2 linked regions of the Homo sapiens genome follow. The protein of the gene in region 1 binds, or shares a complex with, the protein of each later gene. Each region holds a gene or a part of one and is shown in the gene's direction. Other genes may lie near its edges.

Region 1 (3,748 bases):
AGTAACTATGTATGATGATTGATGTGTTCATTGATTGTGGTAATCTTCACAATGTATGTGTATATCAAATCAAGTTATACACTTTGAATAATACAATTTTTATTTGTCATTTATACTTCAGTAAAGCTGGAAAAAATATTTGTTTAATTAATGTATCAATATAGTAATTTCTTTTAACCATTCTTATTTTTTTTTTCTTTTAAGTCTCCTTAATCTTTGCTCCTTGAAAAACCAAGATCACTTGCTAAAACTTACTGTTTCTAGCTTGGACTATAGCAGAGATGGATTGGCTAGAGTCATCCTTTCCAAAATTTTAACTGCAGCTACTGATGTGAGTATAACATAGCCAGTAAAACTATATTTATAACCAATTAATTCACTACTTTATGAATTTTGGGCTAAGTAAAATTAAGTTCTAAGAATATGATATGGAAATTGAGTTTACTTTAAAATTTTAGTTTCTCCAAGGAACTGCATATAGTACTCAGATTTTTGTATCGGGGGAAGAAGCTGCTAGATAGAAAGGGAAGTATTCTATTTCACAAGAACCAAAAAAGTATTCATATCAAGGGCTAGACCACCAATTCCAGGCATTCTTCCCTTTTCAAGTAGCAGGACTATCCCAAAATAAAATCAAATAGGCTATTTATGCTGAAGTTTTTTTTTTTTTTAATGTATTCATTTATCCTTATAGGCCTGCAGACTCTATGCAACAAAACATTTAAGGGTATTATTGAGAGCTAATGTTGAATTCTTTAATAATTGGGGAATTGAGTTGTTAGTGACCCAGCTACATGATAAAAACAAAACGATTTCCTCTGAAGCTCTTGATATCCTCGATGAAGCATGTGAAGACAAGGTAAAGGTTCATTTTTTATAATTTAATACTTAAATTTTTTTGAAATACTCATTTGACAATTATGTAAAAGTATATAATAGGCATTTTGGAACTAAAAATTTTGCTATTTTTGTGCAATTATAAAAAAATAATGATAATCTCTTTTAGGCCAATCTTCATGCTCTCATTCAGATGAAACCAGCGTTATCCCACCTTGGAGACAAGGGTTTGCTTCTCCTGCTGAGGTAAATTTTAAGTAAATTTTCTGTTATGTTTTTTTGTTGTGTTCTTTGGCAGTGTATATTAAAGATAGATTCAAATCCAAATGGGAAGTACGCTGAAGAGTTTACCTTTTAATATTGAAACATTGTCTTTTCATTATTTTGGGTTTTTCTTTTTTTTTAATTTTTTTGGTCTGTTCATACTTTTCATGACATTTTCCTTTTTTTTATTGAGACGGCCTCGCTTTGTCATCCAGGCCAGAGTGCAATGGTCCAATGTTGGCTCGATGCAACCACTGCCTCCCAAGTTCAAGTGATTCTCCTGCCTCAGCCTCCCAAGTAGCTGGGACTAAAGGCGCACACCACCACGCCCAGCTAATTTTTTGTATTTTTAGTAGAGTTGGAGTTTCACCATGTTGGCCAGGCTGGTCTTGAACTCTTGACCAGGTGATCCACTCACCTTGGCCTCCCACAGTGCTGGAATTACAGGCGTGAGCCCCCGTGCCTGGCTGACATTTTCTTTATTGTGATTGGGTTCGCGTGTTGTTGCAAAGATTGTGAAAATTTATTTGTAATTGAAGTTATAATAAATTATAGTTGACCTTTTAGTTTTAGGAACGAACTATTCCTAAAGTCTTTTAGCTCCTTATACTTTTTTAAATTTTAGTTATTTTAGCTTCTTAAGATACGTTTTTGCCAGACTCAATGTTAAACTATTGCTTGTTTTAATTTGCAGATTTCTCTCCATTCCAAAAGGATTTTCCTATCTGAATGAAAGAGGTTATGTAGCAAAACAATTGGAAAAGTGGCACAGGGTAACTTCTTATTTGAATAAAGTTGAATTTGTGTGTTTTTATCTTCTGAAATTGATTTGTGAATTTAGAGGATGGTTTTTTTATATCAGTGTTTTGAAATTAATAAGGTTAAATATTTAAACATCAATATCAAGTTGAATCCTAAATTCTGCATAATTGCTAGTATTTATAGTTATACATTTTTTTAAACTACAGTTATTTCTTTCATTCTGAACTGTTGACTGTATTCGTTCTATTGAAATTTGACTCTCAACTCATTTGATTTTATAATCTAATTTTTGGCCCTGTTTATCATTTCTTTCATTCTTCGGTCCCTTAATATGGCCTACAACTTTGCATGAGCCCTTTAAGCTAAAACCAAAATAATTTTTTTAAATGAAGGGAGATTGAAATCCCAAGGAGATATAATCATTTAGTTAAACTTTACTTTAGGATACTACTTTACCTAAATCTGAGAATGAACTTCTTGCTGTCATAGGGAAACCTGCTAAGAAGGGAGTAGTTTGAAGATATGAAACAACTTTTCTAGCTTTTCTTTAGCTGGTGATTGCTGTGGCTTCATTATTTTGTTTGAAGTATTATAAGTCATCGAAGCATCTTGGAAACCCATGGTCAAAATGATCTTTACCGATATAAATGATTTTTAGATTTTTCATCATTTCAGATCAGTTATCCTGTTTTCTCTTTTTTGTTAACATAGTTACACATTCTTTTATAGTGTCTATATTGAACCATATTTCATAAGAGATACTCCTTAAATGGACTAAAACTTCCAAGCATACAACTTAAGGCATGAAGTCTTTTAGTATTTGATGAATTGTAGAACTGAGACAAGATGTGATAGGTTTGTTTCCTAGAAGATATTTAAATCATCATAATAAAATTTATTATACAAATCATAGTATTAGAAAATTGCTTAGAATATTGGTGCAGTGCTTGAAAATAGCATAAAATATAAGAGCTATAACAAAGTTACATGCAAGGTATAAGGGAACACAGAGGAGAGATTAATGATTCTGCCTTAGGGATTATCAAAAGAAATGTTGAATAGGAGCCGTAGATGTGATACTTGAAATGGTCTTGAGGAGTAAGTAGGCAAATAAATTAGAAGAAGGGTATCCACGGAAGAAGGAGCAGAATAAAGCTGTATAGATCATTGGAACATTATAGACTTATGAAGAAAGTCATATTCCAATGTAGTTGGAACTAAGGTAAGTGTGGAGTGGCAAGATGAGGCTGGAATGGTAAATTAAAGCTAGATTGTAAAAGGCCTCGTAAGCCATATTATATCATCCTAAGGGATTTCAATTGTATATATAGTGGGGAATCCTTAACAGCTTTTAAAGAGTGATCAGAGTTGTGCTTTAGTAATCTGACAGGTTGCAGTGAAGAGGAGGAATTTTGATCATTGAAGGTAAAGTCTAGAAATATTGACACAAGTTTAGAAACAAGAATTGATGAGTGCCTGAACTTCACTGGTAGTTAGGTTGATTAGATGAGGACGCATTTTCTGGGTATTTTCAAAATAAGATGGACAGAATTTGTGGGCTGATTGGATACAGTAAATAAGAGGTCCAACTTGGCTCATAAGGTTTCTAATTTAATGACAATATATAATGGATCACTATTAAGAGATCACATTTATAAAAAGTGATTCAAGATTAGGCTAATGAATTTTCAATATGTTGAACTGGCATTGTCTGTGCAGTAACCACGTGATGGCTTGAAAATGTGGATCTGGAGCTCAGATTTGTGAGGAAAATGGCAGATATGGGGGTCATTAGTATATAGTACTAGTTGAAACCTGAGCCAAAAGCTTATGGATATGATAGAACATTTGCATTCATAATACCTTGATCTGTCTACCCTTTGCT
Region 2 (3,748 bases), on another chromosome or scaffold:
GCTTTGGCCTCCCAAAGTGCTGGGATTACAGGTGTGAGCCACCGCACCCAGCCCAACTATCTTTAATTTGGCAGTTTAGACCTTCTGAAAACTCATTTCTTCTACCTTCACTTGTTTTTATTACATAAGTAATTGATAATGTATAAAGAAAAAAAGTGTGTCTTTCCCAAATTACATCTTAGTTGTGCACATTTCCCCCATGTAAACAGAGACATATAAGAAATGCATAAATATTTTTGTAAATGGTTGTATTATACTTACATTGTTGCACAACTTGTAATTTTTAAACTAGTTGTGAACCTTTTCCTTCTTAGCAAATATTCATCTAATTACCACTATTTATTGTTATTATTATTATTTGAGACAGGATCTTTCTCTGCTGCCCAGGCTGCAGTGCAGTGGAGATCACAGATGACTGCAACCTTGAAGTCATAGACTCAAGTGATTCTCGTGCCTCAGCCTTCCAAGTAGCTGGGACTACAGGCATGTGCTACCACACACAGCTAATTTTTAAATTTCTTTTGTAGAGACAAGGGTCTCACTATGTTGCTCAGGCTGGTCTGGAACTCCTGGCCTCAAGCAATCCTGCCTCGGCCTCCCAAAGTGCTGGGATTCCAGGGATGAGCCACCATGCTAGGCTCTAAATTATAATTATTAATGGCTATGTATTTTTCTTATTATGAATGCATCTTTTTTTTTTTTTTTTTTTTTTTTTGAGATGGAGTCTCGCACTGTCACCCCAGCTGGAGCGCAGTGGCGCGATCTCGGCTCACTGCAACCTCCGCCTGCTGGCTTCAAGGGATTTTCCTATCTCAGCCTCCTGAGTAGCTGGCATTACAGGCACCTGCCACCACGCCTACCTTTTTTTTTTTTTTTTTGTATTTTTAGTAAAGACGGGGTTTCACTATGTTGGTCAAGCTGGTCTCAAACTCCTGACCTCATGATCCGCCCGCCTCGGCCTCCCAAAGTGCTGGGATTACAGGTGTGAGCCACCGCGCCCAAACGAATGCATCATATTTTATTGGACTCCTACTTTGAAATATTTAGGAATTTTCAGTGTTTACTATGACAAATAGCACTGTGATTAAAAAAAAATGTAGTCAAATCCACTTTTGCTGTTGATTTTTTTTTTTTTAATCTGTAGAGACATCGTCTCGCTATGTTGCCCAGGCTGGTCTGGAACTCCTGGCCTCAAGCGATCCTCCTGCTTTGGCCTCCCAAAGTGCGTGGGCCACCGTGACCAGCAGTTATTTATTTTCTTTGGTTGTGTGTGTGTGTGTGTGTGTGTGTGTGTGTGTGTGTGTGTATGTATGTATTGAGACGGAGCTTGCTCTGTTGCCCAGGCTAGAGTGCAGTGGCACGATCTCGGTGCATGCAACCTTCACCTCCCGGGTTCAGGCGATACTCGTGCCTCAGCCTCCCGAGTATCTGGGATTACAGGCGTGAGCCACCATGCCCAGCTAATTTTTGTATTTTCAGTAGAGACGGGGGGTGCGGGTGGGGGAATTTCACCATGTTGACCAGGCTGGTCTCGACTCCTGACCTACGGTGATCCGCCTGCCTCGGTCTCCCAAAGTGCTGGAATTATGGGCGTGAGCCACCGCGCCGGGCCAGCTATTGATTTTTTGAAAGGATTTTTAAAAAATAATGTTGCTTTGAAAATTTTTATTTATGACTAGCTCTTTTGGTTAAAACTTGGCTATGGTTTCTCTGGAGTGATCCTGAGTTGGATAATTTTGGGAAAGTTAGAGAATCTAATTAAAAACATTTTCAAATGCTTATTAATTGTAACAAAAGAGATATCACAGGATCCATAAAGAGCGCTAGCCCGAAACGTCTTTTGATGCAGTAATTCCTGGGCACCGGCATCGCTCACATTCTCCTCTCAGAATTACACCGGGAGGGGTCGCGAACCTCTGCTAGCCGCTCTCGCTGCGATCCGGAGATACCCAGACACCGGACTCCTTGAGTTCACAGCCCGGATGCAGAAGGGAATCCTAGCAGCGCCGTACCGGATGTGTGAGTGGAAGTGACTGAGGTGAACTCACGACCGATTGGTTCTCCCGAGTGGACCCAAGCCTGTTTTCACCTGCCACTGGCCGCGTGGTTTGTCTATTTGAACAGTCCCCGCCCCCTGGAGAAGCCGGGTCCTGAAGCTTCTCTTCTTCATTACTATTGGCCTGTTTTTCAGTCCATCTTCTCCCTATACCTGTCGATTGGTCCTCAGGGCTGGGAACCCTCCTTCCCTCGCTCCCGGCTTAGAGGACAGCGGGGAAGGCGGGCGGTGGGGCAGGGGGCCTGAAGCGGCGGTACCGGTGCTGGCGGCGGCAGCTGAGGCCTTGGCCGAAGCCGCGCGGTGAGTCTAGGGCCTGGCACGACCCCTCTAGGGCGGCGTAATGTCCAGACCCACGGCCAGCCTGCCCGTGGGGGGGCCAGGGGAAGCCGCCCGTCTGGGACGTGGGGTCCCCACATTGCCGGCCCCACGACCTGGGCACCGTCTGAGGCCTTGACTCCCACCCCTCGAGGCAACGCCCACCTCCCCGGGACCCCCAAGAGACCCCTGGACCCTTCGGCCCGCGGTACGTCCGCCCGAAGGCCGGCCCATCAGCTCTGGTATTGCCCTTTGGGTCTTTTGCCTGTCACAGCCACCCTTTCTTTTGAGCCACGTATAAAAATTGTGTATCTCTGCCCCAGGGAACACTAGCGTCCGTGTCAGCCCCTTGTCCTCCACTGTGGACACCTCTCAGAGATCCAGTCCCCGAAACTGAGCTTGGTTACATCGTTGGGGTACATCTTCTCTCCCTCTCCCCCAGCCCCATCCCTGTTTCCCCCATCCAATCTTAACTTCCTTAAGCCCTATCAACACCATTAGGATATTTGACTTCAGATATCCTAAGTTTAATTGAATTCAGTCTGGAGCAGATGGCCTGTGGGCCTCAGATCATATAAAGATACACTGGTTCTTTCCTGAGAATAGAAATCCCTTGCCAGCCACCTTCCCCCCTTTCGGACGCACACACATACACACAAACTGGAGTAGTTTTCTTAGCAGGGATTCTTAAGTTTCTTCTCCCCTAAAGGATGACATTTCTTTCTGCAGTCTTCTTCTTGGCAGTGGAGTATTTGAAAGCTTTACAAAACCAATTATTCCCAGGTTTTTCCTCTGTGCCTTACAAATTCTTTCAAAAATAAGAATTTTGAGAAATTGGTTTTGTAGCATAAGCTGAACATACTTGGGATAGGTGTATGTTACACCCATGGCAGTGTGGGCATAATTGAGGAATGAGGGAATGAGCTCAGGAACTAATTGGTGTTTTTTGTTTTGTTTTGAGACGGAGTTTCGCTCTGTCGCCCAGGCTGGAGTGCAGTGGCTCGATCTCTGCTCACTGCAAGCTCCGCCTCCCGGGTTCCCGCCATTCTCCTGCCTCAGCCTCCCGAGTAGCTGGGACTACAGGCGCCCGCCACCATACGGCTAATTTTTTTTTTTTTTTGTATTTTTAGTAGAGGCGGGATTTCACCGTGTTGGCCAGGATGGTCTCGATTTCCTGACCTCGTGATCCGCCCGCCTCGGCCTCCCAAACCCGGCCAGGAACTAATTACTTTCTTTTAGCTTACATTTGAAGAGCTAGTCCCCTGTAGAACTGCGTTGTTCAGTACAAGAACCACCAGCCACATGTGGCTGTGGAGCACTTGAAATGTGACTAGTCCAGGCCGGGCATGGTGGCTCACACCTGTAATCCCAGCACTT

What was found. The genes of interacting proteins can lie anywhere in the genome.
Region 2: the proteins of RICTOR (region 1) and MTOR are in contact, whole or in part, in a cryo-EM structure (PDB 6ZWM), measured with the Homo sapiens proteins. Residues at the interface, in NP_689969.2 of Homo sapiens: Leu204, Arg205, Gly206, Asn209, Arg245, Asp247, Val248, Glu249, Glu251, Arg252, Leu254, Thr258, Asp259, Phe260, His261, Tyr262, Arg263, His264, Ser265, Pro266, Asn306, Gly308, Ser311, Gly314, Val315, Cys317, Ile318, Pro319, Glu345, Ile347; in NP_001373429.1 of Homo sapiens: Arg1028, Asp1032, Lys1068, Leu1069, Asp1108, Asp1109, Tyr1110, Asp1150, Lys1187, Asn1196, Val1200, Gln1207, Asp1210, Val1211, Cys1214, Arg1215, Lys1218, Gly1219, Tyr1220, Thr1221, Leu1222, Ala1223, Glu1226, Glu1227, Asp1228, Leu1230, Ile1231, His1234, Arg1235, Arg1238.

Annotation. Positions count from the first base shown.
Region 1 is NC_000005.10:38,955,778-38,959,525, reverse strand, and holds part of RICTOR (rapamycin-insensitive companion of mTOR), read left to right. Parts: intron 1-204; coding exon 205-331; intron 332-694; coding exon 695-859; intron 860-1,006; coding exon 1,007-1,083; intron 1,084-1,795; coding exon 1,796-1,874; intron 1,875-3,748. UniProt on the Homo sapiens protein: Component of the mechanistic target of rapamycin complex 2 (mTORC2), which transduces signals from growth factors to pathways involved in proliferation, cytoskeletal organization, lipogenesis and anabolic output.
Region 2 is NC_000001.11:11,261,053-11,264,800, reverse strand, and holds the start of MTOR (serine/threonine-protein kinase mTOR), read left to right. Parts: upstream 1-2,249; 5' UTR 2,250-2,356; intron 2,357-3,748. UniProt on the Homo sapiens protein: Serine/threonine protein kinase which is a central regulator of cellular metabolism, growth and survival in response to hormones, growth factors, nutrients, energy and stress signals.